4 separate regions of the Homo sapiens genome follow, and all the other regions are linked to region 1. The links come from fine-mapping of genetic effects on plasma protein levels. A gene starts in region 1. Each other region holds a variant in brackets. All regions are shown on one strand. Distances are from middle to middle.

Region 1 (8,101 bases):
GCTATGCGGGCGGGCGGGCAGGCGGGCAGGTGAGTGGGCAGGGGCCACGTCCACGGCCAGCCCTGATGGCTGGGGCCCACATGGGCAACTTCTGCAAATCAGCTGAAAGCCTTCCCCATCTCTCCAAGACCAACTAGGCTGCTCCCCTCCCTTGGCCTCCGCTGAGGGGACACCCCCCATCCTCAGCAGTTCAAGAATGCCTCCTCCCCGCCATTTCCTCCTGCGGTCTCATCCCCTTGCCTAGGGGTCATTCCCACCCGTCCCCAAACCAGTCCTAGAGGAATGTCCCCAATGAAGGGCACAGATTGCAACTTTTTTTCTTTCCATTTAGAACAATTCAGATTTTCACTTAAAAGGTCATACCTGGTAGAAAAGTCCTTTTTCAGTTATACAACTGGCAAGGATGACCTGTCAACTGTTGGAGATCAGTTAAAGCATCAAATTTAGCCCCCTCTTCTCTCCCTCCCTCCCCACCCCAAAAACACACACACACATAAGTCATGTCAGAGGCCCAAGCCACAAACAGTCAAACGGTCATTGCCCCTGCTCCCAGGTCTCTGACGGGTTGTGTCCTTTCTGGGTCTCTTTCCCTCGACAAGGGCATGGAAGGACAGGCTCCCCAGGCCTTGAAGCACGAAGGATCCCAGGCTGGGGAAGAAGCAGACATCGAGCCAGGCAGAGCAGGCCTGGTAAAAGCCACGGGGCACACGCAGCCTCCGCCGAGCTGCGCTCCCCACCCCTGCATCTGCTTTTCCTCTCCGTGGCTCTCTCTCTCTCTCTGCGTCTCTGTCTTTGTGCTTTTATGTGTGCTCGGAAGGCGCAATTCAGAGTGGCCGGGCCAGCTGGTGGGAATGGTGGCTGCTCACCCCATTCTCTCCGACTGACAGGCATTTGTAGCTAAGCTGCCATTTGTCACCGCATCCATTTGCTGGTATCCTGGAGGCTGCTGTGTGGGTGGCAGGATGCGTCTGGCTGTGCGTGGCTACGTGTGCATTTTAAAGTATTTCATGTCAGTTGAGGGTTCTCGCTCTGGTTTTGACTGGTTGCTCTATGAAGCTGTAGAAAAATATCTCAGGCCGCACCCTGGCACTATCTCCACAGCCCAACAGAATGACTGTACTCAGCCCACCGTGTACCCCCGTTCCCGCGGGGGCTGGAAGAAGCCCACCCGGGACTGCCCTCCGTGCCCCACCACCGTGCCCCTGCCTTGCACTGTCAGGCGCAGCCGCACTCCTCCACAATCATGTTGGGCACGTCCCGCTTGACGATGTTGTACTCATCATCGAAGTACAGCATGGACATGGTGCTCAGCTTGGTGGGAATGCAGCAGGAGTTCACCGTGCCGGGGTTCAGACCCCGCATGCGGTACTGGTTCACCACAGCCGTGTGGAAGGAGGAGGCAGAGCCGGGGACCCCTGCCAGGTAGGCTGGGCAGCTGCCCTCACAGTAGTTCCCGTAGTAGCCGGTGGGTGCTATGATCCAGTCGTTCCAGCCGATGAGGCGGAAGTCAATGAAGAACTGTTGCCTGCAACAGAGGTTGGTCCGGCCATCGCACTCCAGGCCTCGCTTGCGAATGCGGTGCCTGCTGTCGCCCAGCCGAGCCTGCACCACCACAAAGGGCCGGTGCGACTCTTCGCCTGGGTCCACGAACACCGGCACCACGGCCAGCTCCTGGCAGCTGTCACACTGCACGTCTAGGTTGAGTCGCCGCTCGCCCCGCTCAAACAAGGCCTGGATGGCCTCCGTGAGTGGGAAGGTATGCCAGCCGCTGCGCTTGAGGTCCACCCTCTTCTCCACCATGTTCCACCTGTCACCGTGGCCCTGCTCCTGGAAGTACACTTTGACCCGCACCTTCCGCCGGCTGCCCTTCTCCAGGACGTAGGGCAGGAGTTTCAGGTAAAGCCACAGGCTGGCCTGGACCACAAACAGGTTCTGGTTGCCTTCGTTGGAGATGAAGAAGTATAGGCGGACCCGGGAGGAGGCGAGGCCATCTGCGGAAAAGGGGAAGGGCGAGCCAAGTTAATTCAAGGAGAACACAAGGCAATGGGGGAAACACACTCTCTGCTGCAGGATGCTGGAATGCAACTCGCCACACAGCTGGAAAACGTTACTGACCAGAAATACCATTCTTGGGGCCAGGGCCTCTGACTGTAACCTGGGAGAGGCAGAGAAAATCGTTTCTCATTGAGAAACCCGGACCAGGCTGGGGCTGGAGGGTCCGCGCCTATAAAATCCTGCCTCACCTCTCCCAGGCCAGGGCTCCCTGGAGACAGGCTGTCAGGCCTCAAAGCACAACAGAAGAACTTGTCAGGGGGCCAAGATCTTAACAAGTTGTTATGGGTATCTGTGAAATCTGAAAAACAAAACCAGGATCGCAGGGAGGATTTTGGGGTGGGTGGTTTTAGTAGGGCTTTTTTTTTTTTTTTTTTTTTTGGTTAACTTAGCGCATTGCAAAATCAAGCTGAGCCACCTACCGCCTCTTTCCAGTGTTTACCTAAGTATGATGTGATCCAACCCCCAGTGGAACCTCCACTGCAAACAAGCAGGCTCTGCTCAGGTTTCTGACATAGGAACGTGTGCTTTGCAGGCTGCAGAGCCTAGCCCTTATAGAATAGTTTCAAGGGACAGGACATTCAGCCTTAAAACTTGAGGTCCAATCCTTTGACAAGACTCTGGCTCCCTGTTAATGGCACGTTCAAAATCCCCAAGGAGTAGGGGAGCTGGCTAGTTAATTTTCTCAATAATTCAGCTCAACAAGAAGGAGGCTGTGCCAATCAAGAGATGACTCCCCTCTCATCCTACATTCCGGTGACCCTTGCCTCTGACAATCTACGTTTTTCTTTCCTTTTTTTTTTTTTTTTTTTTTTCAGGAAGAACAAATAATGAAACTCTGTGGTCAGGGCTGGTTTTATCAAACCTCCCACCATGCCCCTCCCAAGCCCCTACCTCAGGCCTCGCCTGGCTCCTCTAATAACACTGACATCTGACTTTGAAATGGGGGAAACTGCAGCCTTAAAAGCTGGTCTTGGACGAGCTGCCTGTGACCTGAATCTGTTATTTATAAGTCAAAGAGCTGGCTCCGTGAAACGGACCAGAAATATAACAGCCCCCGCTGTCATTTTGTGCCACCGGGACCAAAAGGCCTCCTCGACCTTCCAGAATCACATTTCTAACTCTGGGCCCCAAAGCACCTTTTAATCCGAGCCCTCTAATTGCATGGCGAGCTTTCCCTGACTCACTTTAGTGGACAGCTAAAACGGCAATGCATTTCTTTCTAAGCACAAACCAGCCCCGATTGTCTCTGCTTTTCTCCACACCCGGCCATGCAAAACTTTTCATCCCTTTTCATCCCCGGGCTGCCTGCTGCCTGGTGGGGTGGGGGGCATTTGCAGCCAGGGGCACAACCGCTCCCCCCACCGAGGCTCCCCGCTTGCCCCCGCCCTAACTGCACCGGGGCTTCCCCCTCTGCGACCTTCTCCGCAGTCCCCTCGGCACAAATGGGGCCGAGCTCCAGGCACAAAAGCCAGCCTGGCTCATTCAAGTCCTGAAAAGGACAGCGGAGTCGAAAGCACTTGCAGCATTTTGGCGCGGGCACATTTTTCTCCTTCTTTTAAAGTTCCGAAAGATTTTTCTCTCCCTGATTTTTATATTTAGACAGTGTTAGAGATTTGCAATCTGGGGCCGGGGGGGGGGGCGGATTCCAGAAAGGAGCCATACCCTTTGTTAACTACGACTCTGCCTCTCGGGCGAGGGGTCTGCTGCAGCTGCCAGGCAAGCCGAGAGGCACGGGGCTGTCCCCGAACCGCGGCTTTCTCTGTGTAAATGATGGACCTGTTGAGAAGCCTGCCTTCCGCCCGATTCCGGTGCCCACACAATCGGAAGAGAGGTTGCCTAGCTCTCCCCAGCGAGGCTTCAGCAATCCTGGCAAGCCCACGCCGCCGGTGATGGAAGCGGCCCCAGGGGCCTCTCACGCAGGCACACACACACACAGACACACACACAGATACACACACACTCTCTCTCTCCTCCGGCCCACGTATATCAACAAGCACACACATCTCCATCCACACTGCTAAGCCTACACTCCGATCGTGGGAAACAAAAACATTAAGCAATCACCAAGCAAGTGCCCGCAGAGCCAGGGCCGCGCGCATCTGCCGGGAGGGGGACGCGCGCCCAGAGGCGCTGGGGCCCGATTCCGGAGAGCAGGGGTGGAGGGCCAGGCGATCGGCGGCGGGGGGTTGAGGCAGCAGGCAAGGGTCTGCGGCCTGGGGGAAGAGGACTGCAACCCGGGCGGAGCGCGCAGGGCCACGGCCGAAGGAGCTCTGCCGGGAGTCCAGGCTGCCCCAGGGCGCGCGGGCTGCGGTGGCGGCGGTGGCAGCCGGAGCTAGCAAGGAGAGGGAGAGCGGGAGCGAGCGGGGACCGCGGCAGACAGCCGGAGGGCCGGACCCACCTGTCTCGGCGAAGCTGATGATTTCGGAAACGCGCTCCTGGCCGTCGGCGCCCGGGCTGGCGTGGCCGTCGAGGTGCGGGATCTCCACGCGGCCGTCCTCGCGCACCTTGCCCGCGTGCAGCTTGCGCAGGGCCGTGACCATGGCGGCCTTAGGCACGGCGTGCGTGATGTTGGGCCGGCCCCGCATCTGCAGGCGGCTCAAGATGTGCCGCTTCACCGCCTCCAGGAAGTCGCCGTCCACTCGGCCGAGCTCCTCTGGCCGCCGGAAGCCGCCGCACGACGTACAGGTGTCCTGCGAGCCACCCGGGGATCCGGGTGGCGGGGGTGGCGGCGGCGCGGCAGGCGTCGGCGGGGGCGTGGGTGAGCCCCAGGCCTCAGGCCCCAGCCAGCCGGCCGCCAGCAGCAGAAGGCAGGCGGCCCCCAGCGCCCGACCGGGCAGCCCGTCCATGGTGCGCCGCTGGCGACGAGGGCGCCCGCCGCGAGGCGAGCCGAGTCGAGCCGAGCGCAGGGCCGGGCTCCGGGCTCCGGGCGCGCCGCCCCGCCCCGCCCCCGCCCGCGCCCGCGCCCGCCCGGGCCTCCGCCCGCCCGCCCGCCGGGAGGGCTGCCGCCGGCTCGCAGGGGGAGGGGGCCGGCCGGGCCTCGGGGGTTCCCGCGCGGCAGGGAAGGGGCGCCGAGGGCCCCGGGGGCCCGAGGGGCGCGCCGGGCGGGGCGGAGGTCGCGGGTCACTGCCGCACGGGCGTCTCGGGGCGCCTCGGCATCTGCAGCCTTCTCCCCATCCTTTCCGCGTCGGGGGCCCCGCAGCCCCGGTTCGGGTGAAGCGAAAGCAGCGTCAGTGGGAGCGGCGGTTCGGCCGGCGGCTGGGGAAGGTGGCGAAAGAGCGGGTCCACGCAACTTGGCTGAGACGGAAGCGAAGGCGCTGGAGCCCCCCGGAGCGGAGCCGGGCGCGGCTTGGCGCGGCGCTGCGGCGGGCGCTGCGGCGGGGCCCCGCGCTCGCACCTGAGCGCCTCGCCCTCACTGCCTCGCGCCAGGAAGGGCCGCCGGCGGCGGAGACGGGCAGGTCGTCCTCGCCGCGGGCCGGCGGGCAGTGGCGCGGAGCAAGCTTGGTGCCCGGGAGAGCCGGCCGCGCGGGCCCGCTCACAGGCGGCGCCGAGCCCTCGGCCGCGGGCCCTGCAGTCCTCCCGGCGCGTCACACGGCAAAGTTGTCTCCAGGATCCCTGGGCGCCGCATCCACGGGCGGGCGGCCGCAGCGCGCTTCGCCGGGGCCTCTGCTCCGCCCGCCTCCTCGCAGCCTCCCTCCTTCCCTCCGCCTGCCTGCGCGGCCCGGCCGGGCGCGGGGCGCCGGGCGAGGAAGGCGAGGGGGAGGCAGGGCCCTTCTCGCTCCTGTCTCTTCTGCCTGCCGCGGCGGCGGCGAGGTCGGCTCGAGCGCCGAAAAGTCTCGCAGCGTCCCCGGGTGCAGTGCCCTCGCTCGCGCTCGTACTGGCACCCGCCGCAGGGCCGGGAGAGAGCGGGCGGGCGGCGGCGGCGTCCCCGCGCCGGGCCGCGGCACGGAGTGCGGAGCTCGCCGAGGAGGAGTTCTTCTCTTTGGTCTCTCTTCTTTTACTCTCCCCGTTTTTTCTCCCAAGGGGGAAAAAAGCCGCACAATCTCCGTATGTGCGCGCGCGTTGAGATAGACGTTGGCAGAAAAAAGGGGGGGAGGGAGGGTGTCGTCCTGCCCGTGCGAGAGGAGACGGTCCGTACCTCCCCGCTCGAGCTTCCCGGGGTGGGGGGAGGAGGAGAAAGCGGAATCTGTTCAGGTTGGGGCTGCCCGCTCCCCGCGCTCACCCCTGCTTCCCACCGCTTTTTTCCTTTCTGCCTTCCCGAGAAGGAGGGGCGAGCCGGCCCTCTCCCCTCCCCTCCTCTCCCCTCCCACCCCCCGCAATGCCGGGCTACTTTTGCTACCTCGAAACTTTCCCACCACGTGGGCGCCCCGGACCCTTGCCCAGCTGGGCGGCCGGCGGCACCGACGGGTTCCAGGCGCTGGACCCAGGCGCTCCTCCCGGCCCACTCCCGCCTCCCCGCCGCCGCGCAGGCCCTGCCTCTGTCCCAGCTGCCGCCCTCCCCAACCAGCAGAGGCGACTCCCGCCGCCGTGGCCGCCCCCGGCCCTCCCGGGGCGCTCCCTCGCGGCCGAGCCTGGCGAGGCGAGCGGGGTGCGGCGCGGCCTGGGATGCCAGAGGCAGGCTCCGCCGGCGGCTGCCGCTCTGGGGCTGCAGTGCCCTCACCCAGCTCCCCGGGCCGCCGTCGCACTGGCCGAGGCGTGGACCCTGCGAGCTGGAGGGCGGGAAGGCAGTAGCCACTGGAGGCCTGGCCAGCGGCTGCGTCTGCTGGGCCAGGAGGAACGCCCCGATTGTGCGGGATCCCAGGCGCGCGGCCCGGAGGCCACTGAGCCTCAGGGCTTGAGGGGCTGGCAGGGTCTACAGTACCCCACCCCCACCCCCACCCCCAGGGAATTCCCACTTTCGCCAGCAGACAAACTTTGGCTTCACTCAGACCCGGGTTCCACTCGGGCTCAGCCACTGCCAGCTTTGCAGGAGTGACCTTGGATAGAGTCCTCACCTTTCCTATCGCCTACCTCTTCTTCTGTGAAGGGACAGTAACACCTGTATCACAGGGGCTGGGTGGGAGGCCCAGCGAGGCAACTGGGCCAGGCTCTTCACACAACCCGATAAAGGATGGTTCTAGGGTCACCGTTCTCAGGCCACCGGACAAGGAACACTGTCAGTGGAAACTTGACTTTCAGACCCGTCCGGGGCCCCAAGTGCAATGCGCTCCTCTGTCCTTCTTCACGCCCCCACCCGGGTCTGGGGCCGCATGACAATGCCCACAGGACACGGAGCCGTACCCCGTTCCCTCGCAACGGGCTAGACTCAAGGCAGAAGCACGATGGGAGTTCATCCTGGCTTTCCCAGGATATTGGGGAATCGGGGACGTCGGAGGCGGAGCGTGGCCTCCTGCCCCCGCCTCCCACCGCCAGTCTCTCGGGCCAGCCCTGCCACCGTGGAGCTCGGCCGGGACCGCAGGCCCGCGGCGGCCTGCAAGTCTGGAAGCCGAGCGCCCCCTCCCTCCCAATCGGAGGAACCGACCCGAAGCTGGCGGGCAAAACTAGGGCGGGTGTGAGTTTGCCGACCGAAGTCAGAAGCAGGGATCCAGGAGGATCCCCGAGATGGCAGCCCTTCTGCCTCCTTAGAATCTCCACCAGGGCCAGAGTCTCTGCTCTCCCATCAGGTTGCCCTTGCCCTGCCTGGGAGCCTGTGGCCCGGGAGCTTCTGCCTCCTGGGAAGCACCTCCTGCATGGTGGCCTTGAGCCAGGCTGGCCACCTCCTGGTTTTGCTTGCATCTGCCCACCCGGCTGTCTCCGTCACCACAGCCACCAGCTACTTGACAAACTCATTCTCAGGCTCTCAGAGTCAGCCCAGTCTCTCCTCCTTGGCGAAGCCTTCCCTGACCCGGTTGTGCCCTGTATAGTTTTTTACCTGAGTGAGGCTCTCAGCCCAGTGCCTGGCTGTTATCTCCTCCCTTGTCTGTCTCCTGCATGGGAAGCAGACTTCCTGGGCCCTATCTGGTGCCAGACCTGGCAGATGATCAGGGAGAACTTATTGAAGTAATGATTG
Region 2 (8,101 bases), 200 kb before region 1:
TGGAGGGCTGGGAAGGGACTCTAGCCCTGGCTTTACCTGCCTTTGTCATCAGCTGGAGCAAGCAACTCCGCAACCTCGGAGCCTCAGTTTCCTTTTCTGTAAAAGGCGGGGAGGGTGGGTGGTAAGTGCAATGCTGAATCAGAACTCATAGAGCTGCTGGGTGGACATGTGAAGTAAAAGAGGAGACAGCTTTTGCTCCTGAAGGATGCCATTTGCGTTTTCCTCATCAGTTTGATCTCCTCCAATCATCCAGCACCTCCATCTGACCTTCTCAGCTGAGAGGTCCTCAGTGTTTCTGTGGCCTCCAGGAGAAAGGTCCCCCTCCCCGGCTGAGGCCAGGCTGATGGCAGGCTGCACGGCCAGCCTTCCACAGTCACCTGAAGGATACAGAAAAGGAAGAGCTGGAGGCTTCTAGCAAGCTGCCGAACTGTGTCCTCCAGCTGCGCCCAGCCCCCTGGAGGTAGCGCCGGAGCACGTGGTGGTGGCTATGTAGGAAGGCCCCTTTCGAGCCGCCCTATACTGTCTTTGGGATCTGCTTTTTACTGCCACAGCCTATGTGCTCCTGATTCTTCTCTCAATCCCTGGATGGAAACCGGCCTCTGATACTTGGCTCTGCTTCCTTGGAGGAGCTACTTAACCATTCAGTCCTCTCTGCAGTTAGCTATTAAGGTTGTCCTGCGAACTGAAGCAGAGAGTCCCCGCAAAGGGTGCAGAGTAGGGCACCCACAGAGGAGCCTCTAAAGCACTTTCCATGAGGTGGATGGCTTCTCCTCCCCAAGGGACCCAGGAAGGAAAGGAGAGCTGGTGAGTGGGTGGGCTGGGTGAGCCCAGGGGTCAGCTTCCTCCCTGTGGCCCACAACTAGCCTCTGAATCCCAGTGTCACACATGACTCTAAGTTGGTCTTGGGACCAAATCTCTGACCTCTTTGGCTGCAAGTACGAGAAGCCTTATGTAGTGCTAAAACAAAATTTTCACTTCTCCTTTTCGGCCTCTTAGAATCCATTGGCTGAGAGGAAATGAATTCACTAGTGTCTTGGCAAGAATTTATTTCATTTATTGCAATAGCCTCTGTTTACATTTCAAAACCATGCAGACAAGTGCGTGTGAGAGAATATATTCTGTCCATGGATAATGCCTGGGACCCTGATGAATTATCTGGCAGGCCCCCTTGCTGGGCACCAGTTTTGTCGCCATCCAATAAAGTCTTAATATAAACCTGGCTCTCAGGCATGAGCTATCTTAACACATTTTGCCAGGCATGTATTATGATAAGCCCATTTTGCAGATAAGAAAAGAGAGGCACTGAGAGCTATTGTAACGGCTCAGGACAAAGAGATAGGAGAGCACAAGTTAGGTCTGGGTGACCCCAAAGCCCATATTTCCCCCCATATTCTCCTCTGCCCCATGAGAGATAATCTCTGCTAATCTTGTCTCTGTGGCTGGGGACTGGGAACTCCTCAACAGTGAAGTTGTCAACTACCAGCCACATGTTAACATTTCCTGAACAGTCACAATGCTTTTGTATCCATTGCCTCGTTTAATCCCCTAAGAATTCAATTAGTTGCCCTGTTTTACAGAGAAACAGATCAGTCCTCAGAGAGGTTGAGCAACTTGCCCAAGGTCACAGGTTTAGGAAGAGGCAGGGCAGAGATCAGAATCCAAGTCTGCCTGTCCCCAGATCCCTGCTGGCCTCTTTGCAGTGTGTGGGCTTCCCAAGGTCAGAGATAAAGAGGGCACACATAGCTAGCCTGAGCCATAACATCCCTCAGTCCTGCTTTTCTTCCCCACTCACAACATGGTGGGTATGAAAGAGTAAAATGAAAACCCTAATTGTTTGCCCCAGAGCTGGTCCTACACCCGGGATGACTAATCAGTCTCCACATAGAGTACATTTAGGGTCTCTGGAATGAAGGAGAATGTGGACAGAAAAATGGGGCTTTTAAAAAACCTTGACTGAAAGTAATTTTTAATGTGCCAAATATTTCGACTCAATCCAATACACAGGTTTATTACACAGAAGGCCAAAATATCCTAAACAGGCATTATTTTGCAACAAGAAGAAATCAGAGCAAATCCAGCCATCATTACTCCCAGGAGCTAAGAATGTAATTGTCTAATGTGACTTATAATCAGCCAAGGTCTTGTCTTGATGCTTTAGCCCACCAAATGGCTTCTCCTGTCTCCAGGGGACAATAATCCCTGCGGAATTCTCCTTAGCACAGATGGGTTTCTGCACAGATAACGGGTTTTATTGCTTGAAAGCATTTCGCATTCTGTACTGCTGTTCCCAAGAAAGAGCTGGAACTGTCCTGCTCTGCATCTGTCTCTTCTTATTCCAGATACCTCCAGAGCAGCTCAGAATCCCTTGGGTTGGGGACAAGTCGAGGCAGAACATAGAAAGAAGCACTTTGTGCCAGGCAGAGATTCTCCACCCTTCCTGTTGTGTGATTCTGAGCACGTCACTCCTCATTCTCAGCCTTGGCTTCCTCTTCTGGAAAATGGGAAGAGGATGGTTCACTCAGATGCCTTGGGAATTGAGACTCCTAGCAGAGTGCCTGGCATACAATAGATATGCCGTAGCCCCTGTTCTTAATCAACAGCTTGACTGAAGCACGGCCAGGGAGAAGCATGACTTCGTGCGTGGACTTGGGTGCCCTTGGATGGTTGCTTGGTCAGCTAAGTGCTCCTTGTTGAGCATCCCTTTGATCAAGCCACTTCCCTTCTCAAAAGGGTTCATTGGTTTCCTGGCTCCCCTGAATGCAATCCAGATTCTTGAACCTGGCCATCGAGGCCTTCATTTCCCAAAATGTCTTTTCAGCCAACTTTTCCACTATCCAAAGAGCCACTTAATAAATATTTCAAGAAAGAGAAAATACAATGCATCTAGCATTATGTGGCTGAAAATCTTGGCCCTGTTCCTAAGAAGCTCGTAAGCTAATTGGGAGCAGTAAGATACCAAAAGAAAAGGAACCTGGCATTGTTTCCTAACTTATTTTATATTTTAATTAAGGGACCACCAGCTCAGGCCCAGAGCTCTAGTTCCACTTCTGCCTCACATTTGGAGGGCCTGCTCCAATGTGATACTTGGAGAATGCCACTTAAGTTAAGCCACAGTCCAGGCACAGTGGTTCACGCCTACAATCCCGGCACTTTGGGAAGCCGAGATGGGAGGACTGCTTGAGCCCAGGAGTTTGAGACCAGCCTGGGCAACATAGCAAGACCCTGTCTCTAAAAAAAAAATCTAAAAATCAGCCAGGCATGGTGGCACATGCTTGTAGTCCCAGCCAGTTGGGAGGCTGAGGTGGGAGGATGGCTTGAGCCCAGGTGTTCAAGACTGCAGTGAACTAGGATTGCACCATTGCACTCCAGTCTGGGCAACAGAGCAAGATCCTGTCTCAAAAAAAAAAAAAAAATTAAGCCACAGGTGGGTGCTGCGAGTCACTGACCACACGTCCCAGGCCAGGTGGGCGTGGCAATCTCATGAGGAAGCCCCCACACCAGAATGATGACTGTACCCACTTCTGTTTTCTCCATCGACACCCCACACTTGGCCAACAATCATAGAGAATGTCAGAAATGGGTGTTCGAGGGTGTGTTTTCTTTTTGGTAAAAATAGTTGCCTGTTAAGCAGCATGATGACATGAGAAATAAGCTTCCATTTGGTGAAAGTCGAGGTACTCAAGGCCTGTGTGATTTAGAGACACTTCGCAGGGCTGCAAGAACTGTGTAGGAAGCCAGTGAGGCCTGGAGGCTCTGCCCTGTGGCGTTGCTGCCCGAAGCTTGATGCCTGTCAGTCCTGGGTGTAGTCCTTCACCTGGGAGGACTTC[C/T]ATTTGCCTAATGTTGAGTAAGAGGCCTGTGGGGACAAAGAAGTCCTGCCAGGAACATTGTATTTGTTGCAGATAAGCACATGCAAGTGAGTAGGAGCTCCTCAAAGGGCAGAGGGCCCGGATTCCACCAGTGGCACTCAGGAGTTTATACAGCCATTTGGGGCTCCTCGTGAATGAATGCTTGTTTTCTAAATGTCTCCATGTGGCAGAATTTGGAGAGACTGCTTCCGTTCTCACGTCGTTGTGAGGTTTGGAGAAGAAGCTAGCCCTCGCTCACTTCAAACTTTGACAGGAGCTACACTCATCAACCGAAACTAGAAGCAGCCTAAGGGTTGTGCATGACTACAATTTCTGTTTGTTTGTTTGTTGTTTGTTTTTTGGTTTTTTTTTTTGAGATGGAGTCTCACTCTGTCACCTAGGCTGGAGTGCAGTGGCATGATCTCAGCTCACTGCAACCTCCACCTCCCGGGTTCAAGCGATGCTCCTGCCACAGCCTCTCAAGCAGATGGGATTACAGGCACCCACTACCACGCCTGGCTAATTTTTGTATTTTTAGTAGAGGCGGGGTTTCGCCATGTTCACCAGGCTGGTCTCGAACTCTTGACCTCAGGTGATCTGCCTCAGCCTCCCAAAGTGCTGGGATTACAGGCATGAGCCACTGCACCCAGTTGCCAGTCCATTTTTAACAGTCCTTTATTAATAGTCATTTGCAGGGCATACCTAGGCTAGTGTGTCCTAGACTCTGAGGTGAATTTATCCATGATGCTTGAATGTAAGAAATGTCACATCGATTTATCTAATCCATTATATCTGTTTCCAGACCTTCTCCCCATTGATACAGCTGGGCAAACATGACAATGTCAGTCATTCACTGATGCTCCCTCCCTCCCTGCGTAAGCCCTAAGGCATATTAGGAAGCTCTGCTGCATAGTGGGCAGTGGTGTCCCCTCTCTGGGCATGTTTGGCAGGCATCTTTGGGGTAAGGTTTGCCAGCCTGGCCTCCTGCCCAGCTCAGCTTTGCCCCTGCTGTGAAGGGCATCTCCTGCTGTTGGCCACACTTCCTTGAAGCCAGCCAGCTAGAGGGACCTCATGCAGGCTATGGGGCCTCCTTGGTTGGACTCATGAGTCCCAGGTACCAAGGTGGTCTTTTCCACCATAGGTTGGGCCACTTGAGTGGCTATGGATTTGGAAGTCCCAGGTCCCATGGCCCATCCTGTTATATCTCTGTCCTCCTTCCTCATCAGCCCCATAGAGCTGAGCTACACATATTCTCTGTCTCTCTCTCTCTCTCTCATTTGGTATACCAAAGCCTCCATTTCTTGTCTTTTTGGGATTCCATGGTTGAATTATCCTTTTTGGGTCCCAAAACCCTAAAGCCCTTAAACCCACAGGCTGTTAGGGGCTGGAGCATGGGACTCAGATGCCCAGCTGCCCCAGAGAACAATTCATTAACAGTAAAAAGGCTAAGATGCGAATTTTTCTCAGAAAATCACCCATTACATATGAATCTTTATTGAACTTTCACAGGAAAGCCCCAAGAAGATGCTAGTATCATCATCACCCCCGTTTAACAGATGGGAAAATGGACTTAGAAGGATTAACCAATTGTCGCATGGCTAGTGAGTAGGGCAGTGTCAGTTTTGCTTCCAGGTCCAAAGTCTGGATCGCCCATTATGTAGTGGTTCTTAGAGTAAGGCCTGATTCCTTCTGGGCCTCAGTTTTCCCAGCTGCAGAGTGGCAGGTTCTAGCTACCAGAAGGCAGGCTAAACTCATGAAGCCCAGGCCTGCCCGATCAGCATCTCCCTCGGGCAGTCAGCTCTGGCCTACAGGTGTTTGACACACTTATGCTCAGCCACAGGCCCTGGGTGTATGAAAAAGTGATCCTGATCGACAGGCACCTTAGCTTGGGGCTCAGTCAGTCATAAATGAGGCGACAGTTCACCTGTCTCAAAGGTGGCAACTTAAATAACTCCCTCTGGGATATCAAAGCTGGCAAATGACCCTGGGAAACAGCTAGACGGCAGCACAACAGAGGCAGCTCCCGCGGCAGATGGGCACATTCCCCAGGTCCCAACCTTCATCAGTGTGTGTCATTTTTATTGCAGCTTCTGCCTCCCCAGCAGAGAGGGACCTTCCCAGAGAAGATGTCTTGCGCCTCACCTGATCTTGTTCTGAGAGTAGGAGACTGGAAGAGAAGCGTTCAACTCCCCAAACACAGCTGGGTTTGTTTCGTTTAATCTCCCAGCCTGTTTTTCTGCTGTCCTCCTGAAGAATGTTTAATCTCACAGTTAAAACCACCAAAAGCGACTTTTTTCCCCCTCAACTGCTCAGTAACACATGACCGTGCAAATTCGTTTGGCCCCAGCGCCACAAGTCATAAAAGGCATCTAGTGGGCGGCATGAGTCAATCAGGCCTTTGGACGGTGACGTAACCACAGCTTGTCAGTTTCCCCATCCAGGCAGCCCCAATCCCCCAGTGCAGACATCTGGAGCCAGGGATTGACAAGTGGATTCCAGGATTGGGCCCTGCCTCCCGCCCTGTTCAGTTCCAGCCCAGCCACGGCCGCCGCCAACGAGGACACGCACTGTCTTTCTGCACATTCCCACGTACACACACCCCCGCAGCCCCCTCTCCACTCATTCCTGCATTTCCGGCAATGTGAATTCTGACAGCTCGGGCAGTGTCAGCCTCTCCGGTGCATTCCTCACCACACCACCTCACTGCTCCCGAGCCTGCTGACAGCACTCCCCGCCATACCTACCAAGCCGAAGGTGCAAGGAACCTCTTGATCCCCACTGTGTCTTTGTCCCAGGGCCACAGCAAAATAGCACCCCCCTCCCCCACACACCCTCTAGCCTAATTTATTAGACTTTTAAACACATTTATTTACTGTGATATCTACACCACACCAAACATCTGGAGGGAAACCGGGAGACAATCCACCAGGAATTTAAATGTTTGTTCTGCAATGTAACTTTGAAAACCGAACCAGGAAAACTTGACATCTTTAGCCAATTGCTTGGTGGTGAGTAGACTTAAGCCAATATATAATCTGTAAAGGTTGTCCCTCTTTGCCCTCTCTCTATCCATGAAACGCATTCACCAAACAGCCCAGAAATATTTCTTTCTTCTCCTCTCAGAGGTATGTGAAACCAACCTGAATCAACAACATAGTTGTTCAACCAGCCTCACTGAGAACGAAGGCATTTCAGAGCTGGAAAGACGCTAGGGTCTGGGGTCTTATCTTCCACATTTATCTGCCTTATTATAATCCATCCAGTCATCCTCTTTGCCCTTGCCAGATCTCATCGCTTACACTACCACTACCGAAGGAGCATAACGTCTGTGACTTTTCTTTTTTTTTTTTTTTTTTTTTGAGATGGAGTCTTGCTCGGTAACCGGGCTGAAGTGCAGTGGCAGGATCTTGGCTTACTGCAACCTCTGCTTCCTGGGTTCAAGTGATTCTCCTGCCTCAGCCTTCTGAGTAGCTGGGACTCCAGGCATGCGCCACCACGCCCAGTTAATTTTTGTATTTTTAGTAGAGATGGGGTTTCACTATGTTGGCCAGGTTGGTCTCGAACTCCTGACCTCGTGATCCATCTGCCTCGGCCTCCCAAAGTGCTGGGATGACAGGTGTGAGCCACCGCACCCGGCCACGTCTGTGACTTTTCTAAAGCTTTAAGATGATGTCACCCATAGGCAGAAAGGCCCACTCATTTCGTGCATCTGCAGTCACTCTTCTGACGAGGTGCGGCTCTCTTTTGTTCTATCAAAGAGAAAGCCAGTCTAAATTAATGGGAAACTAGAGAATTAGGTCATTTTTCAAGATGAAATTGCTGGTAGCTTAAGGAATCAGCTACTTGAATCCCATGCTAAAAAAGTGTAACTCCTGAGGAGTGAGCTCTTCTTTCTTCCTTCCATAATGTCAGGCACTAAGGGAGGTTCAGAAACACAGAGCAGCATCTACTCCTTTCTCAACGAGCGTGGGGTCCAGTGCAGTTGGCCCTCATTTAACAAATAATTACACCCATGCGTGAAAGGTCCAGTGGGGAAACAGTGCGGGGAGCCTCAGGCAGAGCTGATTCAGGCCTGGGGAGGCACGGGAGCCACATGTTCAGGGTCCACAGGCCCAGCGGAGTGATACGGAAGTTTCCAAGATGGTAAGCCTCTCTCCTGGCCCATGCTCACCAACGGGACCCCATTCCTAACCAGGCTTTCCCTCTCTCTCTTTTAAGTGTTCCAGGAATGTTCCTACCCCTGCGTCTTTGCTGAA
Region 3 (8,101 bases), 240 kb before region 1:
AAAAAAATACTTCTACCTTTCTAAAAAGAACTTGGGATGAAATCTGGTCTCGCTTTCACTCTTAGGGCCTTGGCACGTCCTTGCCATCATTAGTAGGGCTTCTGCTTGGTGGAGCCCTGGTAAAGAGACACCCTCGGCCAGGCGCGGGGGCTCACGCCTGCAATTCCAGCACTTTCGGAGGCCAAGGCGGGCGCATCACGAGGTCAGGAGATCGAGACCAGCCTGGTTAACACTGTGAAACCCTGTCTATACTAAAAATACAACAAATTAGCCAGGTGTGGTGGCATGTGCCTGTAATCCCAGCTACTTGGGAGGCTGAGGCAGGAGAATCACTTGAACCCGGGAGGTGGAAGTTGCAGTGAGCCAAGATCGGGCCACTACACTCCAGCCTGGGTGACAGAGCAAGACTCCATCTCAAAAAAAAAAAAAAAAAAAAAGAAAAGAAAAATAAAGAGACACCTTCTACTTGGTGGGGGCCAGCTAGCCACAGGAAGGGCCTCCCTGAGCCTTATGGCTGTGTCAGGAAGAAGAAGATCAACAGGCCCCATCTCAGGGCCAATGAAGCCCGCCACTGTCTGTGGACACACAAGCCCATCTGTGGAGGACTTGGGCCATGTTTCAAGCAAATAATGTTTATTAGGTCCCAGGTCAGCCCATAAAAGCTCTTGGAATCCAAAATGTGCTTGAAGCTTAGGATCATTAGTTCTGGTTTTCCAATACTTTGCTCGTTCATTCATTCAATCCCTCATTTGGTCAGCAAATGTTTACCAGGTGCCTACCAGATGTAGGGGTATACAAGTTAGGTTTAGGATGCAGTTATATGACCTGGGCTAGAATGACAGTGGCTCTAACCAGACATAGGCTGGCTCCTTGCTTGTCAAAGCCACAGCTGGTGCATTGCTCAGGCCCCTCTACCTGTTGCTCTGCATTTCTGGAGCGAGCTCCTGTTTGCACGGTCCGCACACCTCACACCTACACTGCTCATGCTCCTGCACCAGCGGGAGGAGGTGAAAGAGGAAAGGCACAGCCAGGCGCCACGCACAGCCTGCTCATTCGGACTCCGTTGGCTGGAACTTGATCACGTGGTCACAACCTGCTGCAAAGGTACTGGGAGCTGTGGTCTTTATTTCGGGTGAACACAGGCCAAGCTAAAAATCAAGAGATCTCTTACTGGGAGAGAGGAGGAGACAATAAATGTTGGGAGACCACTAGTAGGCTCTGAAAAAATTGGTGAATAAAACAGATGTGCTCCTTTGCCATGGATCTCACAGTCCTGAAGGGGGGATGGGGACAGCATGAAATAACAAGTGACCCGAAGAGTCAGTGCTTCCCTCTGTGATGAGGGGTGCCAGGGAAAGTGCAGGGCACTCAGAGAGCAGTGAATAGGGCGTCAGGTCAGGCTTCTTGAAGGAGGGGGCATTAGCCTGCAGGACGACAGGCTGGAGGAAGGGGGGGTACACTGGGGAGGAAGAGGGAATGGCATATGCTAGGATCCTGTGGCAGGCAGGAAGGCGGCTGGCCCTTAGGAGGACTAGGGAGGAGCTGGTGTGGCCGGGGTTCATGGGCGATGAGAGGGGATGAGAGGCAGCACTAGGACAGGCAGGGCCTGTAGCCCAGTGGGGCATCTGGAGACCCCGCCCCGCCATCAGGACACTGGGAAACCTCCCTGATGGAGGGTGGAGATTGGCTGAAGGGGCGACTCAGCTGCATGTGTAATTTTAGATCACTCCACTCTATTGCCTGTCTTCTCTGGAAACAAGGATCCCTGGAGCTCAGTAAAGGTTACAGGGGTAAAGCAGGGGAAGTGGTCCCACCTGCCCTGGAGGCAGAAGCATGGACAGAGAGCTTTGCTGGCTCTACCACACGCTAGACATCTTGTGCCTAATTAGAATCCCAGAATGCTGGCGTGGAGAAGACAGACAAAAGCATCCAGTCCTGCTCCTTTGTGTACAGATGAAGAGGCTGGGCCTAGAGAGGGAGAGGGGCCCACCTGGGTCCCCCAGCAGGGTGGTGGTGGTGCTGGAAACAAGATGGACTCTTTCTGACTCCCTTGGTGGTGGTAATGGTGGGTGGCAGGACCTGGGCTGGGGTCACTGGGTCAAACTAGTGTCACCTGGCCCCTGGGAGCTACCTATCTGAAGCAGCTCCAGAAACTTAAATTTGCTAATTAATTTATAATTCCAGCCCTAAGCCATAAAATCAAACCACACACTGAGCTGTCCACAGTTGCCTGACAGCTGGCCTGTCTGATCCTGGCTGTCTGCTCACAAATTGGTATTAGTGGCACCAAGAGCAGATTAACATGGTGACCAGGCACCCAGAAACTTGATGCCACCCGCTGGGCTCACTAAAGCTGTCAGTCTCCCCAGCTGCTAAGCTGCCCAGGCACCCATGTCTCCCCAAGCTTGGGTTGCAGAGCAGTCCTGGGCCCAGCAAGGAGTAGGACCTTTCTCAGCCATCAAGTGATGCCACTGGTCAAATATAAGTTACAGGAGAGAAAAGCAGGGAGGCATTGCCAGGAAAGCAGTATTCAAATTTCAGAGTTTGCACAGGGCTTGAGAATCAGTGGGGACCATGGGCATTCATCATCCTAGCCAAAGCCCACACTGCAGAGCCAGAGAACTGAGCCCAGAGAGGAAAGAGCTGCGGTGGTGTCATCCGGTACAGGACTATAGCTCGGGCTCCCTCCCCGACAACCTAATGCTCTACCTGTTCCTCTGAGTGAGAATGCCGCTTTCCCATCATCTCTGCCAACCTGCGTTTTTCTTTTATGTATTTGTTCACCTCATCAACTCCTACCTCCTGAGCACCTACTACTGTGCCAGACACTGTACAAGGCCCTAGGATACAGGAAGCAATCATTGTGGGAAGAACTAGAAATATGAAGAGTCATTCTTGAGGTTAGTATGATATACATTAGTGAACAAAGGAAGGGAGGGCGGGAAAACATCCCAGACAGGATGAGCCACGACATGGGTTGCATTAGATAGGGTTGGAAAACACCACGGTACAGTGGTGTAAGCAAGGCATTTTCCCTCCTGTAAAATTCCAGGGCCAATATGATCACTCTGACCTGCAAAAGCCTTGGACACCCATGCTCCTTCTACCCACTACGTCTCTGGTCCTCATGGGTCAAGATGGTAACCAGGGCTCTAGCCATCAGGTCCGCACTCCAGGCAGCAGGATGAGAAGGACAAAGAAGAAGTGGGAAAATATATGTTCCCAGAAACACTTGTATAAGAACACTTAATGTCAAGAACTATAAAGGGTCTGAAATTTTACTCAACTTGAAAGGTAATGAGTTAGGCTCTTGAGAGGCTGGCAGAAGATG[C/G]CAGAACCATGAGTCAGAGACAAAGGATGTTATTCCTCACAGCACAGCAAACAGCATGTGTATCAGCATATTTGCGTCAGTTCCTTTTGCCCCAAGTCCCACAGAACAATGTGAGTGGGCCCAGATGGATCCTGTACTTGCAGTGAATTGCATTACAGGAGAGGAACCCTGAGCTTAGGGAACCTGGATCTTTTACAATGGGAAGCAAGCGTGCTTGCCCTTTGCTCCAGAGGGAGACGCTTGATCTTCCAAAGCTGTCTGCAATACAAACACCCATGAAAAGATAGGTCAATCAGTGCCTTACTCATAAGATGTGTAGAAATGCGAGAGACTCATGGGGAATTGTCTCCCAATATACAGCAGCTTTATTCATAATAGCTCCAAACTGGAAAGAGCCCAGACGTTCATCAACAGGAGAAGAGATATATTTATGCAATGGACCATATTTGTGCAATAGCCATCTTAATGGGTGTGAAATGGTATCTCATTGTGGTTTTGATTTGCGTTTCCCTAAAGATGGGTGATGGGTGTCTTTTCACGTGCTTGCTGGCCATTTGTATATCTTCTTTGGAGAAATGCCTAAGTCCTTTGCCCCATTTTTTAATCAGGTTGTGTTGTTGTGTTAATTATAGAAGGTTTTAACCAGGGTGGTAACTTAGATTTACGTGTTTGGAAGATTCCTGTGGTGCCCTATCTGGAGTGTGAATTGAAGGCAAGAGTGAGAGTAGCATGATCAGGGCGGAAGCCGCTGCAATGATCCAAAGATGATTGATAGTCTTCACCAAAAGAGAACCACAGAAATGGAAAGGAAGGGATTGGGGAGAGAGGCATTAAGGAGCAAGAATGGGCAGGCTTGATGAGCGCATGGCAAGGGTGGGGAGAGAGGGGAAAAGTCAGGGCTGTCCAGGCAGTTGACTGACGACCAAGTACATCACCATAGAGAGGGCATCCTATAGGAAAAATTTGCAAACCCTCCTCTGGTAACCCCTGTCCCCATGAACTCCTACAGAAGCAGCTGCACGGGACCAGCATCTTCAACTTTTCCTGTTTGGTGATTTTGCTAAAATATCTCACCTAGCTCTGAGCACTCCCTGTTCACCTACCTCTCCCTCCCATCCCTCCATCACGTCTGGACACCTGATGCCCCTTATCTCTTGGCCCCAGTGCACGTGGGTTATCCAAATCTTCAGTTCCAGGCTCATGTCTGTCCTCACAGATTGACAACCTTCAGAAATGTCTCCAGCTTTTGGACCCTGGCTCCCTGGACTGCTCTTGACTTTGCCTGCTGCCCAGGTTTGGGGTCTACTTGCGTAGTGGGTATCGATTGGGGTGGGTGTCCAGCTGATGGGAGTGTGTCCAGTATGTGACCTGCCCCTAGCCACTGCCAATTAGCCCAGGATGGGGCCACTTGAACCAGGCTGAGCCAAGCAGAAGCCTTTACAATTCCCCATGCACAGACTGTCCCCAGACCAAGAGAAGCCAGAGACTCCGGTGTCCAGCTGGAACTAGAGCCGGCACCCCCAGTGCCAGCCCTGGCCACCTCTGCCTTGTCTCCATCCCTCCCGCTTTGCTCCACACACCCCCCTCCCTGGCCTCCTTATGCTGCAGCCTCAAGACCATTGCCTCTTCCTGGAAGTCTCTCTCACCTCCCTCAGGTCTCTGCTCAGGTGTCACCTCCTTCGAGGGGCCATTCCTGTCGCCCTGCTGGCTTCTCCTGGAGGTGCTCTCGCTGGTGTCCTAAGAGGCCAAAATCTCTTGTTTTGTTCCCTGTGGAACCGTCTGAGTCTAGAAGAGTGCAGGTGCACAGTGGGTCCTGTTACATTTCTGGAATTCAGGGAGAATGAGTAAGGATGGTGCAGTAGTAGCGAGACTCACAGAACTCTGCCTGCAGGGGCCATTTTCCCCAGCGAAGAGAGCTGCCCAGTGAAATAACAGAGGCCTGGGGCTCACACCTTAATGGTGAAGGGCTTAGTCTGGGCCAGGTGACGATCTTCACCTCTCTGCCTCGGTTTCTTCAGCTGAACAATAGGAATAATCACCTGCCTCTTAGTGCGATTTTGAGGATTAAATGCAGGAATGCGAGTAGGCTTTGGACTTCAGTCAAGGCTCAGTAGCATAATAATGGGTCAGGAGCACGCAAGCTCCAATTAGAAGCACTTAGGGAATCGTATTATTCTCCCAATACCTGATTTATGTAATAACAGAACTCCTGCTATCACCAGCTAGGCACGGTGGACCAGAGAGGGCCAGAGGCGACCCCAGGCTTGCAGCCGACTTGCCAGCCCGGGCCGCAGGTCGGGACCGGCGCCGGCTACCCCTCCGAGGGCGGCCGAGGGCGCGGCCCGGCCCGCGGGGCGGCTTTGTGCGTCGCCTGATTTCCATTTCCCCAGATAAACACGCGGCGGGGGCCGCGACCTCGCTGCCTAGCAAATGCCTCGGCTCCCCGCCCCGCGTGGGGCCCGCGAATGAGATGATTTACTCCTGTTTTGCATATTAATTGACCTAAATGCCACCCGTTCTGGGAACAATTAAGAGGCCCTTTGGCGCCCGGGGCCACGGGCTGGCGGCGGCGAAGTGGCGGGCGCCCCCTCGGGGCCGCGGGCCGGGCCGGGGCAGGGGGATCCGGGGACGCGCGGCCCCCACCTCCGCCGGCCGCGGGCACAAAGCGGCCTTTGTGCGGGCGCCGGGCAGGGCGTTTCCGCGCAGACAAAGCCCCCGCGCCCTGCCCTCCCACCCTGCCTCCAGGCGCCTGAAGCCTCGCAGAGGACAGGCCTTCATGCCCTTCCCTCCCCAGCCCCGCGACGTGGGGTGCCGCTTTGATCTTCGCTCTTCCCCGGAGGCTGAGTGGCTCAGTGGCTCACAGGTGGGATCCGCCTCCTACCCGGTCACGGCCGTGCCCTTGCCCTTGGCAGTGCGGGCGGCGCGGGGACAGCGTGCCTCGATCCAGGCCTCTCAGCCGACCTGAGCCGGAGCCACGGAGCTGGGGATGCCCGCGCAGCTCTGCGCCGTCACCCTGTGTCCAGGCGCACTGTAGAAGGGGGCCGACAGGAAGAGGCGCTGCGCCAGAACTGTTCCTTCCAAAGCACACCTGCTTCGTGCCTTCCTTGGGTTTCCACCGTAGGAAACTGGCACCACCTCCTACCCCCTGCTGGGGCTGGAAACAGCGCCACCCCGCTTGACTCTTTCCTGTTGCCTATGGCTCTCACCCCACTCCTTCCCGCATTTCCGCAAGTCCTGTGGGTTCCAGAATACCCCATGTCCTCTCTCCATTTGCACTACCTCTGCGCCTGTCACCAGCACAAGGGCTCCAACTCTCCCCAGTGGCCACTCCGGCCCTGTGGTTTCCCATGCGGGTGCTACTGGCAGGCTTTCAGGGGGTAAATCAGACCCAGCTGCTTCATCGCCCCACCCCCCACGCCAGCCCTTCAAAGGTTTCCCTTTGCACTCAGAAATCTACTCCTCTTTCCATGGGCCCGGGGACCCCGTGGGAGTCAGCATTCCTGCTGTCCCTTGGCCTCTAGGAGCTTATTCCAGACCTCTTTTAGGAGAGCATATTTAAGAGGAAACCTGAAGGATGAGGAGGGAACTGGCCAGCTAAGGAGTCAGGGGAACAGTGTCTCAGGCAGAGGGAACAGTGAGTGCAAGGGCCCTGAGGCCAAAAAAAAGCCCTTGGCTGGTTCTAGGATGGCCCAAGGGCTGCGTGGCTTGGAGTACAAGGGAGCACAGAGTGAGAGCAAAGGATCACCCAGGTGGGCAGGGGCCCAGCCTCTCGGGTAAGGGGTGGGCAGGGGCCGGGCCTCTCAGGTAGGGTGCTTGGGTTTTAAGCAGGAGGGTGACTGGATCTGGTCTACGTGTTCATGAGCAGTTACCTCTCTATGTGAGCATCTTGGGGTGTTTCCTCACCTCCTCCTCCAACAGCTAGGCTCCCCTGCACACCCCAACACACACACACACACACACACACACACACACACACACACACACACACATCATCTGTCCTCAAGCCCTGTGGGCTGTGGATTCAAGTCCCAAATTCCCTCCAGCCAGGCCTCTCCCTCGCATTCCCTCTGCCACGACTTCTCGCCTGGGTGACAACAGCAGCCCAGGAACTGCCCCACCCTGCCACAGCTGCAGCCTCATCCCCTCACCCCCTACCCTAGGGCTCTGGGCCCACCAGCCACTGCTCCCATTACCTGCCTGTTCACTGGGTCCTGTTGGCTCCTCAGGACTCCCAGACCATATGTCCCATCCTCAGGCCTTTAAAGGGCAGTGGCTCAGCTGCTTGGTCCATGAAGGAATAAGGGTCTAGTGCTGCCAGATTGGTATACGTTTTCAGGGGAGGCCCGAAATCCAGATTTTGATGTGAAAACTCCCTTGTAAAATATCAGACCAAAATAAAAACTATTTTAACACTGGTAGAACCAGACAAATGACATGTAGTGAGAGTTGGGTTGTTTGCATCTCCCCTGCCGCCCCCAGCCTGCATATCTCATGTTGAAAATTGATCCCCAGTGAAAGGTATTTGGGTCACGGGGGCAGATCTCTTATGAATAGATTAATGCCCTCCCTCTCAGAAGATTGGGGGATGGCAGCCGGGGGAGCAGTGTGAGTTCTCATTCTATTAGCTTCTGTGAGAGCTGGTTGTTCAAAAGGGTCCAGCAAGCACCTCCCTCCCCCATCTTTCTAGCCTCCTCTCTCCCCATGTGATCTCTGCACGCATGGCTCCCCTTCGCCTTCTGCCATGAGTGGAAGCAGCATGAGGCCTTCCCC
Region 4 (8,101 bases), 110 kb before region 1:
ACTCCTCAGCCTCCTTTTTTTCTCACGAAGGCTGCCTCAGCAATTCAATTTCCATCAGATTCAACTGGATTCATGTGGCCCAAAGGCCGTCCACACCACAGGTCCTTCCCAACTGCGATGCCACCTGGGCACTCGCTTCCTTGCCAGGCAGCTGGTTCTCCCTGCCCACCATTTATCATTCTAGAAAGAGCTTCAGTTAAGCAGACACTTGCCTGTCTTCCTGCAGCTTCTACCTGTCAGCCACAGAGCAGGGGTGTGGGGGGCACAAGGGCGACTCCAGCCAGATCCCCTGGGGTCTGCATCCCAGCTGGGGGCATTGAGCTTCTGGGGGTTCAGTTCCTGTCTCTGTAAGGTGGGGAGTTTGACAGTCACCCCAGAGGGTTGTTGAGGGGTTCAAATGAGATGATACGAGGAAAGCTTTCAGCCCGGCACCCAGAACCACAGTAAATTACTTTTTGTTATTATTGCTGTTGCTATTTGTTCATTAAGCATCTGCAATGCCTTAAAAATAGCTGAGGGCTCCACTCATGCGCCCTCACCTCTGTGACAATTTAGCTTCTTTAGGCTGAACATACAGCCCCTTCCTTCAAATACCCACTCTGTGTCCAGGTCTCAGACTCTCACCTCTCTGGCCAGACTTTACTCAAGTCCCCCAAAGGGAAAATCTGGAGGAGAAGGAGGAGGCCTCTTTTGATTTTTAGGACAAATCTACAGAACTGAGAGAAGCTTGACCACAGCAAAGAGTAGAATGGGAACCAATCATTACCCAGCATGGAGAGGCGGAGTTCTGCTCAGAATAATAAACCTTTGTCCTTCCTGAGGCTTAAAGCTGTCCAAGGGTAGAAAGGGCTGCCTTGGGAGGTAATGAGCTCCCCATCTCTGGAGGCATTCAAGGTGGATGATCACCCACCAGGGGTGTTATAGAAAGGATTTTCACACTGAGTGGAAAGTTGAACTAAATGACGTCAAAGATGTAAGCTCATCACAAAGAAGAAACAAGTTCATTCCTTCCCTCATTCAACACATATTCATTGTTGCATTCCTAGCCACACCGACCTCTGTGCCATTTATTCTCCTGGGTATGCAGTTCACACTAAGAAAAGAATCTGATTTTCGGAAGCATTTAATGAAAACAGGGCTACTTTGAAGTTGCTCTTGACCTTCACTTTTACATCTGTAAAATGGGTGGGACAATAACAGTGCCTACTTCACACGACCAGCAGACAGACGCTAGAGCGACCTGGCACACTGTGGACCTCAGTGAAAATTGGTTTGTCATTATCGTTAGTATCATTAACATGAGGACTATAACTGAAATCCTGGAAATGTTTCTCTTTCTCTCTCTCTTTTTTATTTTTATTTCTTTTTCTGAAGACCCAAACAACTCGGTATGTACTAAATCAAGTCCTAAGAATCCCACCTAGCTAAAGCCTTCACCCACAGCAGCCGGGACCAGCTTGGTCTGGAAACCAACGACACACCAGTTCTCGGCCCACATCCAAACCCAGCCAGGCACCAGAGACAGGACGTCTGCTGAACCTACATTATCTGCTACCATCATTTCTAAGAAATGGTATCCAAGGGCCAAACAAAGCAATTTTTCTCTGAAGCAGCTTAATCGTGTTGTAGAGGAAAGGGTGGTTCTAACTATAAACCCAACTTGGCTTTTCAAATGAGGGGAAAATAGAAACCCATAAGCCCCTCAGAAAATCTGATGTCAGCCAGCTTCTTGCTTCTCCGTTTCAAGTTACTGGGTACTCCTCTGCTGCCCAAATGGGCCAGAACGAGGGTTACCACCAAGAGGGCTTAGGTCAGATCAGGGCCTGTGCCTGCTGTCCCTTGGGGTCTGATCATGGTCTCTAGACTGACACTCAGAGCCTCGGTGAGGCTTGGGGTGTCTAAGGGAAGAGTACATCTGGGACGTTTCATATGTGGAAGAGCCTGGGCTTGAGTCAGGCCACCTGGCTCCTGGTCTCAGACCTGCCACTCATCAGCTGTGTGAACTTTGCAGGTGACTGAACCTCCCTGAGTCCCCATTTCCTCCTCTGTTAATCGGCACTATTGAGTCCTATCTTTGAAGAATTGGGAGGATTCAGTGAGGCTGTACTCACTAAAAGCCTGGGACAGAGAAGACCCATGGAGTAGTCACTTCCCTCCACAGAGCTTGCTGAATGGCTGAGCCTGGGCAGTGCTGTGCTTTCCCCGGACTGGCCCATCCTCCCTCTATCAGGAAAGGTGGGTGGTAGACAGGCACCAAAAGGACGCAGAAGACAGGAGGGGTGCTGGGCTGAAGGCTGGGGCCTAGGGAGTGGCCCTGGCTGAGGGATGAGGGCTGGCTTTTTGGGGAGAAGTAGAAAGGGGTTTCTCCACAGTGCATTTGATGCAGAGCTTTCAAGCACCTTCTGAAGGCCTCAGGGGAGAGTCTGAGCTCTTGCTTGAGGAAACAAGAAGAAGCTCAGCAGGAGGGGACTGAGGAGTGGGCGAGTCAGCCGCTGAATGTGTGCAGCACTGAGCATGGGCGAGGCTGCTTGGGAGACCCTGCAAGGGTTTGGGGGACCCTTGTGAGGACTGACCAGGACCGCCTGTGCTCTGCTCAGGGCATGTGTTGTAAACACGGGAGACTCAGGCCTTGACCCAGGGAACATGGGACTCAGATGCAAATTCAGTAGTCCTCGAATTTCAGTGAAATCGGCGTTACTTAGAGAACTGCTCAAAATACAGCAGACCAAGAATTTCACTTCTGAAAGGTGAAAAGAAGTAGGTGCACTGGCTTGGGACCTCGGAACCCAAGAAACAAGATGGTGGTGAATTGCCTGGGTTTTCTTTTGCCTTATAAATTCCAGACTTGGAGCTAAACAAGCCAGCAACCCAGAAACACCAATGAACACAGATGGAAAAAAGAAAAAAGCCCTGATACAGTTTGGATCTGTGTCCTTGCCAAATCTCAGGTGGAATTGCAATCCCCAATGCTGGAGGTAAGGCCTGATGGAAACAGGTGACTGGGTCATGGAGGCAGAATCTATCTCATGAATGCTGTAACACCATCCCCTTGGTGTTGTCTTCATGATAGCGAGTGAATTCTCACGAGATCTGGTTGTTTAAAGGTGTGTGTCACCTCCCCCTCACTCACTCTCTCTTGCTCCCACTCCCACCATGTGAGATGCCACCATGGCTCCCTGTTCGCCTGCTGCCATCATTGGAAGCTTCCTGAGGCCTCCTCAGGAGTGAGCAGGTAT[C/T]GGTGCCATGCTTTCTACACAGCCTTCGGAACTGTGAGCTGATTAAACCTCTTTTCTTTATAAATTATCCAGCTGCAGGTATTCCTTTAGAGCAATGCAAGAACGGCCTAACACATGCCCCAAAGGAAATACAAGGGAGAAGCCTAGCAAGACAGAAAACTTTTAGTCAATAACCACTCCATTCTAGTCAAACAACAAAGAAAAAGTGTGGCCCCACCCCAAACCCATCATCAATAGCTGAGTGGGAGCCTAGATTTCCACCCAAGCTATACGGAGGAGCCTCAATACCCCACTGGGTGGTATCAGAGAAGGCCCAGTGGGGAGCCAGCACTTTTACTCCCCATTGAGATGTTCTCATGAATTATTTATTGCTTTCTAATTTGATTCCATTGCCATTGGAGGAGACATTCTGTAGGATTTGAATTATTTTAAATTTGTTGAGGTTTGTTTTATGGTCCAGGGTGTAATCTATCTTGACATATATTCCTTGAGCATTAAAAAATAATATGTATTCTGCTGCCTTTAGGTGGTGTGTTTTATAAACGTCAGTTGAATCCTATTGGTTGATAGTGTCATTGAGTTATTCTTGCTGATTTTCTGTTTAGTTGTTCTATCCATTGTTTAGTGAGGGAGTGTTGAAATCTCCAACTATAATTGTAGATTTGTCTTTTTCTTCTTTCAGTTGTTTTTGTTTCACTTATTTTGCAGCTCCATTGCTATGCATGTTTAAGATTGCGATGCGTTTTTGGTGTATTGAACTTTTTATCACTATGTAATATCCCTCTCTGTGTCTGGAAATATTCTTTGCTCTGAAATACTTTATCTGATACTAATATAGCCACTCCTACTTTCCCATGATAAATGCTTTCATGATTTATGCTTTTGCATTCTTTTACTTTTAACTTACCTGTATCATTATTATTAGGGAGTTTCTTGCCTATAACACATAGCTGAGTTGTGCTTTATAATCCACTCTACCAATCTCTGTTTTTTTAATGGCTGTATTTAGATCTTTTATATTTAATGTAATTATTAATATTTTGGACTTCATTCCATCATTTTATTTCTGTTCTCTGTTAATACTCTGTTTCTCAGATGTGTGTTTTCTATTACCATCATTCCTGGAATGAAAAAAAAGTTCCTGGGTCACTGGAACATTTTTTACAATTCCATTTTGATTTACATATAGTGTTTTTGAGTATGTATCTTTTTGTATAGCAACGTTAATAGTTCCTGTAGGTATTACATTTTATATACATAACTCATCACCATCTATTTGTATCATCGTTTTATCAGTTTGAGTGAAGTATAGAGACCTTACTTTTCTTTACATCCTGTTTGTAAATGTCTTAAATTTTTCCTCTAAATACATTTAGAACAATACCGGACAATGTTATAGTTTTGCTTCCATCATCAAGCATAATTTAGAAAACACAAGAGGAGAAAGAAAGTTCATTATATTTATTCATGTTTTTGTTTACTATGTTCTTCCTTCCTGATGTTTCAAGATTCTTTACTTTATCATTTTCTTTCTGTTTAGAGAAATTCCTTTAGCCATTCTTTTAGGGTAGATGTGCTGATGACAAATTCTTTTAGTTTTTCTTCATCCAGAAATGTCTTGATTTCCCCTTTATTCCTGAAGGATATTTTCACTGGGTATAGAATTATGGGTTGACAGTTCTTTTCTTGTAGCACTTAAAATATATTATGCCACTTCTGGCTTCTATAGTTTCTGATGGTAATTCTACTGTCATTCAAATTGTTTTTCCTCTATAGTTAAGGTGTCATTTTTCCCCTGACTGCTTTCAACTTTTTTTTGTCTTTAGTTTTCAGAAATTTAATTACAACTGGCATTGATTTTTTTTTTTCAATTTGAGGTTGTCTTAGTAGCTCAGGATGTTATAACAAAATACTACATACTGGGTGGCTTAAACAACAATTTGTTTCTCACCGTTACAGAAGCTGAGAAGTCCAAGACCAGGGCACCAGCAGATTCAGTGTCTACTGAGGGCCTGCTTCCTGGCTCATAGACAGCAGTCTTCTCACTATGTCTTCACATGTTACTCAGAGAGAGAAAGCAAGCTCTTGCAGAACACTTGTAAGGACACTAATCCCATTCATAGTGGTGCTGCCCTCATGACCTCATCTAATCTTAATTAGCTCCCCAAAGCCCTACCACCTAATACCATCATGTTAGGAGGCAGGGTTTCAACACACGAAGTTTGGGAAACACACATTCTGTCTATGACAAGGATTTTGTCATCTTCTTGATTCTGCAGACTTGTCTTTTGATAAACCTGAGCAGTTTTTAGCCATTATTTCTTTGAGTAATTTTTTCAGCCCCATCCTCTTGCTCTTTTTTTTCTGGAATTCCAATGACAAAAATGTTAGAACTTCCATATAGTCCCACAGGTTCTCGAGGCTCTGTATTTTTTGTTTCTTTAGTCTATTTTGTCTCCATTATGCAGATAGGTTCTACCATTAAGTTCACTGATTCTTTCCTCTGCCACTTCCATTCTACTGTTGAGCTCATCCACTGAGTTTTTAAATTTCAGTTATTCACTTTTTGAGTTTGAAAATTTTCCATTTGGCTCTTTTTTATACCTTTATTTCTTTGCTGAGGCTTGCCATCTTTAAATTTGTTTCAACTGTGTTTGTAATTGCTTATTGAAGCATTTTTACCATGGCTGCTTTAAAATCTTTGTCAGATTATTCTAACGTCTCTGTCATCTTGGTGTTGGTATCTATTGAATGTCTTTTGTCACTCATCTGAGATCTTCCTGGTTTTTAAACCATTTGTTTTAGTTGGCTTTCTCTGACACCACTCTATCAGCAACAGTAGGGGGCAATACCTTGTTACCACCAGGTGGAGATAGAAGTCCAGGTTCCTCCCTTGGCCTCCAGTGGTGGAGTGGGAGTTCTGTGTCCCATGAGGTCTCCACTGCTACTGAGGTGATGGTGGCATCATTGTCATGGAGAATGTGAAAGCCATGAATTTCCAGTAGGCATCCTCTTGCATCACCCCAGTGTGGGGAAGGGGAAGAAAGTGAGGCATCTCTTTATGGATGAGTGGGGACGAAAGTCCCCACCCTCACTAGACCTTCTCTAACACCACTCAGAGAGAATGTTGGGGTGCCTTATTACAGCCTTGCAAGACTGCTAGTCTGAAGGCCCCTTGGCCTTTGCTAGAGGGCTGGAGACGGAACCACATTTTCCTTCTGTGATGTTTGGCTGGAGTAGGGGGTTACCGTTGAAAATTTTTTCATCTTAAACCAGATATTGCATGTTCTCACTTATACATGAGAGTTAAATGATGAGAACACGTGGATACACAGAGGGGAATGACACACACTGGGTGTGAGTGTTTGGAGGGTGGAGGGTGGGAGGAGGGAGAAGATCAGGAAAAATAACTAATGGACACTAGACTTAATACCTGGGTGATGAAATAATATGTACAACAAACACCCATGACACACATTTACCTATGTAATAAACCTGCACATTCTGCGCATGTACCCCTGAACTTAAAATACAAGTAAGATAAATAAATAAGAAAAATAAAAAACAGGCCAGGCATAGTGGCTCACAGCTGTAATCCCAGGACTTTGGGAGGCCAAGGCGGGTGGATCATGTGGTCAGGAGTTCAAGACCAGCCTGGCTAACATAGTGAAACCCCATCTCTACTAAAAATACAAAAGTTAGCCAGGTATGGTGGTGGGCACCTGTAATCCCAGCTACTCAGGAGGCTGAGGCGGGAGAATTGCTTGAACCCGGGAGGCAGAGGTTGAGTGAGCCGAGACTGCGCCATTGCACTCCAGCCTGGGTGACAGAGCAAGACTCCATCTCAAAAAAAAAAAAAAACCAGAAAAGAAAAATAGAAAACAAGTTTGTCTTGTTAGTTGGCCCCTTTTCTGATCCTTTGGCTAGAGGGGCTTTTTTTTTTTTTTTTTTTTACTGTGCCAGTTAGGGTTTCTGGGCTGGAAGGCTCTTTATCTCCAAGTCTGAGATATATGAGGAAAAAAATAAAAAATCCATGGGACTTACCACCATGTCATCCAGAGGTCCCTGGACAGTCTGCCACCTCTCCACATTTCAGAATCCTTTTATGTTTGTTTTACATATCATGTCCAGGGTTTTTTGTTATACTTAGCAGGAGGAATTGGGCAAGTACCTCTACCCCATTTTCCTCTACAGGAGGATCTGAAGCCCCTCCTGTCTCCTGTGTTCTTTTTATATGCACTCTTTTTTTTTTCAGTACTATATTTTTTCTGCCTCAACCCTGAAGTCAACCACTTCTTCAAGGAGCCCTGGTAGCTTTTACTGGAGAATTGTATTTAGAAACCAAGGACTGTGGGCTACATGTGCTCATTGCAATGGCTTCTAGGCCCTCATAGTGGACAGAGTTAGGAAACACATGTTTATACACTAACCCACATACACACATGTGTTTACATTTATTTCTGTCTCTCTCTCTCTCTGTGCATCTGTGTATGTACAGAATTCATTATCCAATCCAACATCACGGGATTCATTATAGCATTCTCCTTTTGATTATTTGTAGGTTATTTCTCTGAAATGAGACACCTGGCTTTCAATATCTACAATAGATTTACTTATTTGTTCAACCCTAGCATACATGTACAGTAGTTTCAGAATGCTAATTTGTACCCCCGTGAGAAACAAATTTACCAACTAGAAGGCAGTGTTTGTGAACAGTCCTTTTTTACTTAGCCTTACTGTTGTCAAACAAAACACTATTTTCCAACGTTACTGAGGTTGCCTCCTCGTTCCTCACCTCCTTCAGTGTTACTCACTTGTGATAAGCGTGATTCACTGGTCACGTCTGCATTCCATTTTGGCTCCCC

Direction of the effects. Positions count from the first base shown, and alleles are read on the strand shown. Strength reflects both the effect of a copy and how common the allele is.
For the plasma level of the protein whose gene starts at base 4,954 in region 1, T is the high allele of the variant in region 2 and C is the other (strong association).
With allele C in place of G in region 3, the plasma level of the protein whose gene starts at base 4,954 in region 1 is higher (weak association).
For the plasma level of the protein whose gene starts at base 4,954 in region 1, T is the high allele of the variant in region 4 and C is the other (weak association).

What was found. PIP is the chance, under the fine-mapping model, that this variant and not a neighbour inherited with it causes the effect. Protein levels are from antibody-based Olink assays in UK Biobank. Linkage for the fine-mapping came from a reference panel and not from the study's own genotypes, which makes the PIPs less certain.
Region 2: its variant is fine-mapped to the plasma level of the INHBB protein (UK Biobank, PIP above 0.99).
Region 3: its variant is fine-mapped to the plasma level of the INHBB protein (UK Biobank, PIP above 0.99).
Region 4: its variant is fine-mapped to the plasma level of the INHBB protein (UK Biobank, PIP 0.92).

The regions. Positions count from the first base shown.
Region 1 is chr2:120,342,989-120,351,089 of GRCh38, reverse strand. INHBB (inhibin subunit beta B) reads right to left here and starts at 4,954. Exons shown (of 2, transcript NM_002193.4): 1 at 4,454-4,954; 2 at 1-1,991. The coding sequence starts at 4,901. The coding sequence ends at 1,216. It overlaps LOC105373989 (putative cuticle collagen 91), which reads right to left. Exons shown (of 3, transcript XM_047446882.1): 2 at 7,063-7,168; 3 at 5,097-6,203. The coding sequence ends at 5,176. RefSeq lists a cis regulatory region at 7,312-7,802.
Region 2 is chr2:120,544,591-120,552,691 of GRCh38, reverse strand. It overlaps LOC105373585 (a long non-coding RNA gene), which reads left to right. Exons shown (of 4, transcript XR_001739681.3): 3 at 1-804; 4 at 5,933-8,101. Among named protein-coding and RNA genes, the nearest start is that of LINC01101, 82 kb to the right of the region's middle. RefSeq lists enhancers at 680-829, 7,982-8,101. The variant C/T (reference allele first, on the strand shown) is at 3,828.
Region 3 is chr2:120,585,267-120,593,367 of GRCh38, reverse strand. No RefSeq gene overlaps it. Among named protein-coding and RNA genes, the nearest start is that of LINC01101, 120 kb to the right of the region's middle. RefSeq lists an enhancer at 4,351-5,244. The variant C/G (reference allele first, on the strand shown) is at 3,332.
Region 4 is chr2:120,455,128-120,463,228 of GRCh38, reverse strand. No RefSeq gene overlaps it. Among named protein-coding and RNA genes, the nearest start is that of LINC01101, 7.2 kb to the left of the region's middle. RefSeq lists an enhancer at 5,911-6,472. The variant C/T (reference allele first, on the strand shown) is at 3,237.